Homo sapiens: one gene and its partners. The protein of the gene in region 2 interacts with the protein of the main gene of each other region in a biochemical or structural test. Each region holds a gene or a part of one and is shown on either strand. Other genes may lie near its edges. The genes, in order: NFIB, TBXT and NFIA.

What was found.
Region 1: the proteins of TBXT (region 2) and NFIB form a complex in vitro, tested with the Homo sapiens proteins (one study listed by BioGRID).
Region 3: the proteins of TBXT (region 2) and NFIA form a complex in vitro, tested with the Homo sapiens proteins (one study listed by BioGRID).

The regions. Positions count from the first base shown.
Region 1 is NC_000009.12:14,312,356-14,316,178, forward strand, and holds the start of NFIB (nuclear factor 1 B-type), read right to left. Parts: upstream 1,787-3,823; 5' UTR 1,157-1,786; coding exon 1,127-1,156; intron 1-1,126.
Region 2 is NC_000006.12:166,161,252-166,164,851, forward strand, and holds part of TBXT (T-box transcription factor T), read right to left. Parts: coding exon 3,549-3,600; intron 3,416-3,548; coding exon 3,354-3,415; intron 1,373-3,353; coding exon 1,196-1,372; intron 1-1,195. UniProt on the Homo sapiens protein: Involved in the transcriptional regulation of genes required for mesoderm formation and differentiation. Binds to a palindromic T site 5'-TTCACACCTAGGTGTGAA-3' DNA sequence and activates gene transcription when bound to such a site.
Region 3 is NC_000001.11:61,085,533-61,089,355, reverse strand, and holds part of NFIA (nuclear factor 1 A-type), read right to left. Parts: intron 1,208-3,823; coding exon 676-1,207; intron 1-675.

The DNA of each region.
Region 1 (3,823 bases), on a different chromosome or scaffold from region 2:
GCTGACACTTCTTTATATGACTAGTTTTCATGGCAATGTCAAAGAAAATAGTTATCAATTACCAATGGTGACACATCTTCCGAAAAGCTGAAATAAGCTGCCCCATACCTTTAGAGGTTTAAAATACTGCCTCAAATAACAGTTCTGGGCTAAGATATTTTAGTTACTTTGTCAGTTGTTAGTTCCCTGGGCAGCGATGAAAACTGCCCCCAGGTAAGTCTGTTGGGTCTCGCCGCTTTTCTATTTGACCGTCTGGCTTAAAGTGATACAAATCGTGTTTCTAAAAAGTATAAAACCAGTGTTTTATTTCATAACATTATTCCTAAGGTCTTAGGACAATTCTCAAAGTCGAAAAAAATGACCTTACTTCTACCAGCATTACTTAAAATGCCTTACGAGCTACGCCCAAATATCGTCAAATGAACAGGTTTCCACAAAAGGAACACGTTCTAAAAACTCCTTAACAATCACCAAGACCAACTAACTCGTGTCAACGTAAATACTGCCTTTGTGGTGCGGTCACTAGAAACCCCAAAGTGCAGCAGGTCACTATGGACCAGGGTTTCAGATCCCCAAATAAAGCAAAGGAATGGGTCCCCGGACCACAACCTCCGACTCGATTCGTCGCCCGCCCACCGCCTGCAGCGCAGTCCAGCGGCGCCCACACAGACTCGTGCTACAGTCCCCTCGCCCAAGTTCACTGGCTGTTTTTAAAAGCTTAGTCCCCCGTAAAGTCCTCCAAAGCCCGAGTCCACCTCAACGCGCGAGCTGCTGAGAGGGGCTACGGGCACCCCGGGCGGGGATGCCGCACCACAACGGGCACTTGAGGGGCCGCACGGGGCCTCGCACTTACAGGTCCCGGCCCTGCCCACCCCCCGGCGGCCTTGCCCGGCCCAGCGCCCGCGCTCCGTGCCCAGGGCGCGGGGCTGGGCGCTCGCAGTGGCCGTGGCGAGGGGCCGCTCCCGGCTCCCACGCCGCCCCGCGACGCCCGCTGCAACTCCGGGCCACTTCTCCAAGGGACGGGGATGTGCGGAGGTTAACTCAAGCCGCTAATTGTCCGCAACAAAACAAAACAAAGGCATTTCGGGCCAGAGAGAAAGCTCGAGAAAGCGACCGAGACATGTACCTGAGTGAGACAGATGGGAGAATACATCATGACTTCGCCTTAAAACGCACTTTCCGGGAGATGCCCAAGAAAATCTTCGAGAAGCAAGAATTTCATCTATTCATTTTACAGTCATCTGAGCCCCGCGATGCGATCAATCAGGACGGGGCTCTGCGCTGGATCACCGCAACTTCACAACAAACCCAGTCCTCCTTAAATAGCCAAAGATTCAAGTTCACTCGGCGTGCTAGATTTCCAGGGGTGAAATCCAATCTACACTTTTAACCCTCTTGCAGTCCGAGCGCGCTGGCCGTGCTTGCCGAGGCCGCCGCCGCCGCCGGTGTTGGCTGCTTTTCGCCTGGGTTTGGGGATTTGTTTTCTATTTTGCAGTTGTTGTTGTTGTTGGGGTGTAGGGGGTGCGCGAAGGTTCGGTGTGGGTTGGATTGGGGTGGTGGTTGGTGGTAAAATGCTTTTTCAAAAAAGGCGGGGAGGGGGGCGCGGGAGGGCGCAGGAGGGCGAGCGGGCGGGCGGGAGGGAGAGCGGGGAGAATGTGTCACCGCGCTGGGAAAGTTCAAGGTTACAGCCCCAAGCACTGCGGCAGGATCCCGGAGTGGTGATCGCAGGCGAAACTTTGCCGCGAGCCGACCATGTGTGTGCGCGAGGGGCAGCGTGAGCGAGTGCGCGCGGGTGGCGGGGCGCGCGCGGGAGAGGGCCGGGGTGGGGGCGGGGTGGGATGGGGGAGAAGGGAGAGGCCGGGGTGAGGGAGGGGGCGCGAGCGCTGATCTCTGGGGCGGAAGAGGCTCGCGGCGCGTGGTCCCCGGCAGCAGCAGCCGCCGCCGCCCGCGCCGGGTCTTCGGCGCCCGGCCGCCCGCCCGCCCGCCTCGCCCCGCGTCTGACCCGGCCGAGCGTGGAGGCTGCTGTTGCCGCCGCTGCCCAGAGCCCAGGGGTATCAAAACGATCTCCTGAAAAATTCCAAACGATAAATCCCGCTCTCCCGCTCGGCTCCAAACTCCTCTCTTTTCTGCTCTAGGCTCTTTTTTTTCCCTCCCTCTCTTGCTTTCTTTCGTTGCAAAACTTGGAAGTTGAAAAATTCACCGGTTCCACCCTCTGGACCCCGCTCGAGCTCTCTCCAAATCAGACTTAAGGATTGTTTTATTATTTAATTACACAATCATCGCTTTACTCCTCCTCCTGCAAACGCGCATTCCTTTTGCACCAGCCTCTCCACACCCCCCGCCCCCCCACCTTCCTCCTCCTCCTCCTTCTCCTTCTCTCCCCCCACCTCTCCCTCATTTGTTAAAGGTATCCTACCGGTGCTACAGAACCATGACTTTTTTTTTTTTTCCAAAATAGCTCTTCTTTCCGCTGCCCTCCCCACACCAGCACACACATACACACCCCCGAAAACCCGCCCTGGAAGAGGTATTTCGGTGCTCGCTGCGGACTCTTTTAAGCCGCGGGAACATCCGAGTGGGAGAAGCACCGAAACCGTCTGAGCCCGAGAAAGGAACGAGTGGAAAATTCCCTCACACCCAGGCCGCCCCCAGGCCGGGGCTGGGGCGCGGACACTCGCACCCGGGGCGGGCTCAGTCCGCGGAGCCTGCGGCTGCCGGGAAAAGGGGGAGGCCGAGCAGGCGGGGACCTGAGCGAACTTGGGCTCAAGTAGTTGGGGCGCGCCGGCGTGGACCAGGGGGGTGCGGCGCCCAGCCCCCGACGGCCCCGCCCGGAGCCCGGGTTCGCGGATAGGGAGGGGGTGCGGGTTCGTCCCGGGTCTGCCCACCAGGGGCCCGCACCCGAGGCAGTCGCGGCGCGCGGCGCTTCGCCGCGGTTTGCCGCCCTCCCCGGGGGTGCCCCGTGCACGTGGCCTCGCTCTGAGCGGGAGGACCGGGCCGAGCCGCCGCCGCCGCCTCTTGCTCCCTCCACCTCCTCCCCGCGCCCGGCTTCGCTCTCCTCCTCCTCCTCCTGCAGCCCCGCTGGCTGGCTCCCAATCCCCACCCCCCGGGGCCCGGGGCGCCGGCGGAAAGCGTCTCCCTACCCGCCCGGGTGCAGGCGGGGCGGGGCCGCGGCGCGCCCGGGGCTGCGGGGCGGGCCGGCGGGCGCGCGCGCGCCGCTGCAGCCCTCCAGAGGCTGCGGGCCCTGAGCCGCTCGGCGCCCGCGCCGGCTCCCCACCGCGGCGCTGCCCCGCCCCCACCCCGTCGCCCGTGCAGGCTCCGAGTGAATGAACTTGATTCCAGGGATTTTGAAGAAGGCGGTTCGCCTTGCACCCTTTCTGCACCCCCCGCCCACATACACACACCGCCCCCCAAATCCAGTTTTCTGCTTGGGGTGGATGGGGACGAGGGGGAAGCAAAGGCCTCCCAGACAATGGAGGGAGGAAAAGTGAGCGCCTGGGGCTCCGAGTCTACCTAGCTGGGGGATCCGGGGGGCGCTGGGGCTACCGGGTCCTCGCGGGCCCATCCCCAGGGCGGGGCCGCCCCGCTTCCACGGGTACTGCTGGGGCGTTTCGAGGCTCGCCCCCGATTCCCCGGTCCTCTTTCCACCGCTTCCCAGCTCGTGATCTGTCCCCTCAACTTTAGCCCCTCTCACTCCCTCTGGTTTCTGTCCACCGTCCCCTCTTCCCTCCCCCAGCGGACCTGGAGGAACCAGTGACTTTTTCCTTCACCAAGTGGGAGTTATCCACATCAAGCATTTCACAACGACACATCAAGAAAAGTAGGC
Region 2 (3,600 bases):
TGACTTGGAATTACTTATCTTTAAAAATAAATATAACTTTACCCTGCCTTTTTACCAGTGATTACTTCATAAGAATGGGCGATAGAAACCATTACTCCAGGCAAAATTAGAAATAAGATCTTCCTGCCTCAGAGTCTAGCCTCTGGTTGAACAAGTCCCAGTGACTTCCTAACCCAATAAGGTCCTTTCATTTCAAATCAGCTTTAATTGCTTAATTGTTTTATGGTATTCTTTAGCTATTTTCCTTCTTTTGGAGCCAGACAAAATTAAGTCTAGACATATACAGTGTTATAGAGAGAATTAGGCCAGGGGATCTTTATGGTCTATCCCAGTGTTCCTAATATTGGAGCATGCATCGGAATGGCCTGGAAGGCTTTTAAAAGCACACTGGCCAGGCGTGGTGGCTCACGCCTGTAATCCCAGCACTTTGGGAGGCCGAGGCGGGTGGATCACGAGGTCAGAAGATCGAGACCATCCTGGCTAACACGGTGAAACCCCGTCTCTACTAAAAATACAAAAAAATTAGCCAGGCCTGGTGGCAGGCACCTGTAGTCCCAGCTCCTTGGGAGGCTGAGGCAGGAGAATGGCGTGAACCCGAGAGGCGGAGCTTGCAGTGAGCCGAGATCGTGCGACTGCACTCCAGCCTGGGCGACAGAGCGAGACTCCGTCTCAAAAAAAAGCACACATTGCCGGGCCCCACCAAGAGCTGCTGCCTGTCAGTCTGGGGTGGGGCCTGAGACTGTGCCCACTCTCGGGTGGTGCTGAGGCTCTGGCCTGGGCACCGTATTTGGAGAATCACTGGTGTAGTCAGGAATTCTTGAGCCTGGCTGCCCATCATTGTCACTTTAGAGAGGTTCATAGAAGACTCAAACCTGGGCTCTCCTCCTAAGGATCGACCATGGTTCTGTGGAGAGGCCCAGGAATCTGTCATTTTCAAAACCTGGAGCAGCAGCTCTGAGGCCTGTGCAAGGATGCAAGCCTCTGATCTGGGTGTCCGTGGTTGTTCCGCCAGCAGCGGCAGTGGCGGAGACATAAATTGAAGATCTTCTCTTGAGCTACTAAAAAACTGGGCTTGGGTATGTGTTCCAGAAAACCGTCTCCATTTTTTTAGATTCTAGACTCCTGCAGAATGCCTTTCCCAAAGTGGTCTTGCAGCCACCCACCAACCCCTGGCAGAATGAGGCTGAGGACTCACTTGGAGAATTGTTCCGATGAGCATAGGGGCTGGGGTAGGGTGAGGACCGGTGGCTCCTCAGGGTTGGGTACCTGTCACAGCTGTGCGTGGAGGGGAGGGAGAGGGCACCTCCAAACTGAGGATGAGGATTTGCAGGTGGACACAGGGTGCTGGTTCCAGGAAGAAGCCACCCCCCTGCTGTGAGAAAAGACAGTGCTGAGTAACCTGCATTAGTGCTCCCTCCATCTCTCCAGAGAGCAGAGCCCAGGCCAGGGACTGTCCCTCCATCACTCCAGAGAGCAGAGCCCAGGCCAGGGACTCTCCCTCCATCACTCCAGAGAGCAGAGCCCAGGCCAGGGACTCTCCCTCCATCACTCCAGAGAGCAGAGCCCAGGCCAGGGACTGTCCCTCCATCACTCCAGAGAGCAGAGCCCAGGCCAGTGACTTCCCACCTTCCCCTCAGGGGCCCCTGATGGGGGAAGCACCCTGAGTGTCTCATACTTAGGACACAGTCTGCCTCACAAGACATCTGAGGCCATCAGCCCCACACTCACTACCACAGGTAACCCAAGGCTTCCAATCCTGTGTGTACCTGAGTAAACCCAGGAGCCTGGCCTCAGGCAACCTAAGCTGTTTCCTCCTGAGAATCCTCTGGATTGCTTTGAGATCTACTATTCCCCAAGGCAGGTGAGCTTTCCTCCACTGAGCATGAATACAATGTAACCACAGGCAGAGAGCAGGTGAGAGATGCTGAGAGAGGTGGGGTGGTGCTTAGACAAGGGTGCCCTCCCCTTCTCCTCCTGCCACCCACAGAGACGGGAGGTGCCTTCCTAGCTGGGGGTAGACCCTTTTACTGCTCACTCTCCTGGTTTAAGCTCCCCCCATTCTCCCCAGGAGAATCAGAAAGTTCTTCCAAGACTCCCCTTCCTTCCTCTAAAACTACAATTTCTTGTCCACTCATTTTTTTCTCCTCTGAGACTGGGAGTTTCATTCTGTCACCCAGGCTGGAGTGCAGTGGTGTGATCTTGGCTTATTGCAATCTCCGCCTCTCAGGTTCAAGGGATTCTCATGCCTCAGCCTCCCAAGTAGCTGGGATTACAGGCGCCCACCATCATGCCTGACAATTTTTGTATTTTTAGTAGAGATGAGGTTTCACCATATTGGCCAGGCTGGTCTCTAACTCCCTGATCTCAAATGATCCATCCAACTTGGCCTCCCAAAGTGTTGGGATTACAGGCGTGAGCCACCGTGCCCGTCCTCTTCTACACTCTTCAAGCTTTGTTGTTTTGATTGAGAAAAAGCAACCCCTAGCGGGACAACTACTGTGGCTTCAATTTCCAAACTACTAACAATTCTCCAGGCAGCACTGGAAGGAAGGGTGCAGACGTGCCCTGGCTGCCCAGCCGGCCCTGGCCAGAGCAGTGGCTCACTCTACTCAAGTGACTGCCTTTCTGGTTGTTCAATCAGCCTAGGAAATGATGAAAAATCTACAGAATAGAAAATGCCTGTGTAAGGAGGAGTGTGCCCTGTTGATTCATCCAGCCTCTTGACCAGCCAGTGCTACCGCGTTCATTGTTTAATATCTCCAAGTCCCTTCCCCGGGTGGAGAGGACGGACCAGGATGAGAGAGAGCGTTTCTCCCAACAAATGCTGCCGTATAATCCTCTATCCTGCACTCTGACTCCTGAAAGTCCTAGAGGGAGCTAGACTTAAATCCAACTCTCTCATCCTCAGAGCCACAGGAGCTGGTGAGACATTCCTAGAACCAAAGGGCTAAGGAAAAATTTGGTTCCTAAGCATCATTGGAAAGATGGCTCTTCAACCATTAATGAAAGCCTCAAAGAGGAGGTAATGAGCTAGATTCTCCTGTTGCCTACCTAATACAGGAGAGTCCAAACACCCAGCTAGGTCTCAATGATCCACCCCAGGCATGGTGGCAGCTGCCTCACGGCAAAACAAAAGCACCCAGGAGAGTATCCACAGCCCCGATTAGAGCAGAGGTTAGATGGGCAACACAGCTTCAACATCACAGGGCCAAGAGCCTCGCATGGCAAAAAGGCAATCTTACATCCCAGGCACACCCAGAAACACCCTTGTCTTCTCCATCTCCACTTCCCAGCTCTCAGCAAGTCTAGTCCCGATGACGCAGAATGACATGACAGAGTGCAACAAACCGTACATTGGGAGTACCCAGGTTGCTGGCTGTCTCCGGGTTCCTCCATCATCTCTTTGTGATCACTTCTATCAAAATGAAAAAAAAAAAGTATATCGAATTTTCAAAAATAAGGAAATTCAGAAAAGAGTATGTGCAGCAATATTTCATCTTTCTGCATACTTCTTTGCCCAAGGGTATTTATAGTTAGAATTCTCTCACCTTTCCTTTGCATCAAGGAAAGCTTTTGCAAATGGATTGTACTTAATTTTAA
Region 3 (3,823 bases), on a different chromosome or scaffold from region 2:
CACTACATCAATTATCAATAGCAATTTTTCAATGTGTTCATGCAATATACAGGTTGGTTATTTTTAATATTAACCTCTCCATCAATTACTGAAAGAGCTGGTTTGTTTCCCTTAGCTATCTGAGACAACACTAAGAATTCCTAAATACAAAGCTACTAAGTCTGCGTATTAATGTGATTATTTTTCCTTCCTAAATGATCAGCAATTTGATAGTAATCTACCTCCAACTTCTTAATTGGCAAGGGGTTCAAGAGGCCTCAGTAGGTTAAAAACACTCCCAGCAGAAAACCAACTAAAAATATTGCCTCAATACCAAAATAAATGCTTTTAAACTAGATCATTTGTCAGTTAAAATATACTCTTTATTAAAAGGGTTTTCACGAGGCTTCTCTCATCCCCTCATCAAAAAATGTGATTTAAACATATCACATATCTGATTACCAACGCCTCTGAAAACACTACTTACCAAAAGAGCTGAACTTAGTGAGAATTCGCTCAAAGCTATGCTTTTTCACCTGAATGAAGGTGGCACCTCTCTCAATCTTTGAAACCACACTGGCTTCATGTACGTGGCCTGCAACTTGGGGAGCTCAGGAAGAATCCGGCATAACGCGGAGGCCATCAGGAAAGAAACACACACAAGAAAGTGGGAGGAATTCTCACCATCGCACTTACCTGCTGCATGCACAAAGTATGCCAAATATAAATCGAGTTCCTTAACAGAAACCCCTATGTGATGGGGTTGGACACAGAGCCCTGGATTAGAGCATTGTGGGGACTTTACAAGGCGCTCGCCATCAGTACTTTCCAGCGGAATACCTTTAAACAAAATCACCATAACAAGGTCCAACCTCCAGACTTTATCTGCCTGGCGGAGGCAGTCAATTCTTCGCATCTTGCCTTTCTGGTCTGGGTTGGAAAGAACACAACATGGAGGTTTTTTCCCTGTAACTGTAAGAACAAAATCCTCTCGATATTCGGGTCGGATATCTTTCCGCAACTTTGCCAGAAGTCGAGATGCCCACTTCTGCTTGACCTCTGGTTTTTCACTTAGCAATTCATCCTTCACGGCTCTCTCTTCTTCTTTTGACATACGCTTTTCATGTTTTTTGAAGTATTTTCGTTTTCGGGCCTGCAGGTTGAACCATGTGTAGGCAAAGGCTCGGACGTGGGGCAGAAGTGCTTCGATGAAAGGATGAAATTCATCCTAGGAAAATGAACAAAAAGAAAAATATAAGTAGAATGAAAACAAAAGAAAACAACTTTTCTTCAGCGGGTCACCTTAAGAAAGAAATTCCTCATTTCACTTGAAATTTGATTAGAGCATTCTGTTACCAAAATCATACACAGGATCCTATGGGAAGTCTGGGAAGGTGGGAGAGAAAACTATCAGTATCATTTCTTATGATCGGAAATAAAAAAACTGCTGAAAATTAAAAAACTGTTTTAATATGTTCACCAGGGTACACCAGCTACTACTGTCGGGCCTAGCTCCCCATCCTTTAGATAGTAAGTGAAGTTTATCTAAATGCTTATAACAATGTATAATCTTAACCCTATTTCAAGGAAGGCATATCTAATTTTGTCCCAGCCTTGACCTCACCACTTGTAGTACAGCCAGGGCCCAGCCGCCAGATTGGCAAATCCTAAACATTTAGATGCCAGTCAATGTTTATGGAAGTCTAGGAGCAAAAAATCATCTCTACAATCAATGAAAACAAAGGCTTTCCCCCTAAAAATATTGCATGTAGATTCTGATATGTTTCTTACTCATTTTGCTAGTGTCTAAATTCCCCTTTTAAATATTATAACTACATATAATTTTTTTAGTCAAAAACTAGGACAAATTTGGGAGGTTCATATACAAAAGAAGGATTGAATTTGATATTTATTAGGCTAAAATAAAAGATCTATGCCCAAGACATAATTGCTAATACTATGGGAATGAAACAAAAAGGGGGAAGAAAGAGGAAAAAAAAACAAAGAAAAGCATACATGAATACATTTAATTTACTAATATGATTGTGAAGTGCTTTCAGTAATAATCATACCTAAAAAATAGATTATTTAATTTTTGCAAATACTATTTCAGGATTTTTCTCATAGGGAATCAGAACCTGGTATTTTCAATATTTACAAGATGCCGGGAAAACCCTCATAGATGCCTCTTAAAATTGAAAAAAAAATTGAGTTTCAAATATTTAAATGTTTCTTTCTGTTTTGCTTAAAATGTTTGATCCTTATACATGACATTTTCTTAGGAAATATAAATATATTTTTTAAAAAATTAAGCAGTAACCTCCACAAAGCTTTCGGAGTACGTCTAACTTTTGATTAACTAATCCACACTGTTACATAACTTCTCTCTGCCACATAACCCCCTCTCCAAAACATAGATTACCTTCAAATAAATGAGGATTAGAAACCAAAGAAAGATTCGATGGCTTTTTTGCTAAATGGTGTAGGACAGACAAATATTATAAAATGCATTCTTTTTCAGTTTGTTATATCTAACTAAATATATACTTTCAAGGCACAGGTAGCAGTAATGTCCAGAATATTATTATTAACACAATTACTAAATTTTTAAATGTTCAAATGTGAACTGATAAGGTAAAATATTTAATAGTCGTGTTGTTTAAAAATTTAGCAAATTATAATCAATCATTTAAACACTCTATATGACTGAGCTTTTAAAAGTAAGTATATATTAATACATAATAAATTACTTCAATAACTGACTTTTTTCCTCTCTGCACAAATTTCAGGTTCTATGTTTCAAGTTTAGCTTTCAAAACTGCTCTTTTTCAATAAAAGAATCCAAAAGAGAAGTAGTCAGCTTTTGTAACACGTGTGCATTCTTTAAGTAGAGAGAGAATAGAAAAAAATACAGGAATTGTTATTCTTGCCATAAACCATTAACATTTTTAAAATTTCTGATGTTTGAGAATATTTCTTATTCTCATACTTTAGGTGACAGGCATGGGGGGCAAGTCACAGTTTATCTGCAAAGGTATACGCCAAACCACAAAGCATCTAAACGTTACTAAATTCTGAGCTCATCCTTGAAATGATCTAAAATACATAAATTTTAGGTTTGAAACAGAACTTCACATTGACTGATTTTCTTATATATACAAGACATGCTAGGGACCAAGACTCTGTTGTATTATGCAAAAAACTCCTGGAGTCTACCTTAAACTACCAAGTGAGCTTTCACCAAAAGGAGGACTTCATTTTAAAGTTTCATCCCCATTTTATAATGCAAAGTATAACTTAGCTCCAAACGATTCATATCTATGTTAAAATGTTATCTTATTTAAAAGTTTGATTAATGATAATAAGCATTTAAAATAAACATTCTAATATGGCATTTTAAGTGTCTGTAGATACTCCCAATATGCTTTTCAAAAAACTGCAAACTGCATGCATGCATTCGTGTCCAACAGGATTCTGTTTACCTGCCAACCAAATGCCCATATATCTCATCATAAAAATCCTTAAACAAGAACAACTATGTCAATTAGTCATTAAGAATAACTTAAGTCCCCAATTTTGCATCAAAAGTATTTACAATGTATTACTCCCCAAAGGTTAAGAACCTGCCAGTAAAAGTCCACAATATTTTGTATAACTTTACTCATATGCACAATTAAAGTATTGATTTTTTCTAATGTATCTTTCTCAAGTCATGATTTAAAATATTCCAGAATATCAAAACTAAAGAGTATCATTAGCTTGCAAGAAATGTCCAGGAATAGCATAAATGATTAGTTAAAAAAAAAAAGTAGTGTGCCCTTATAATTCATGTTGCTGAACATAT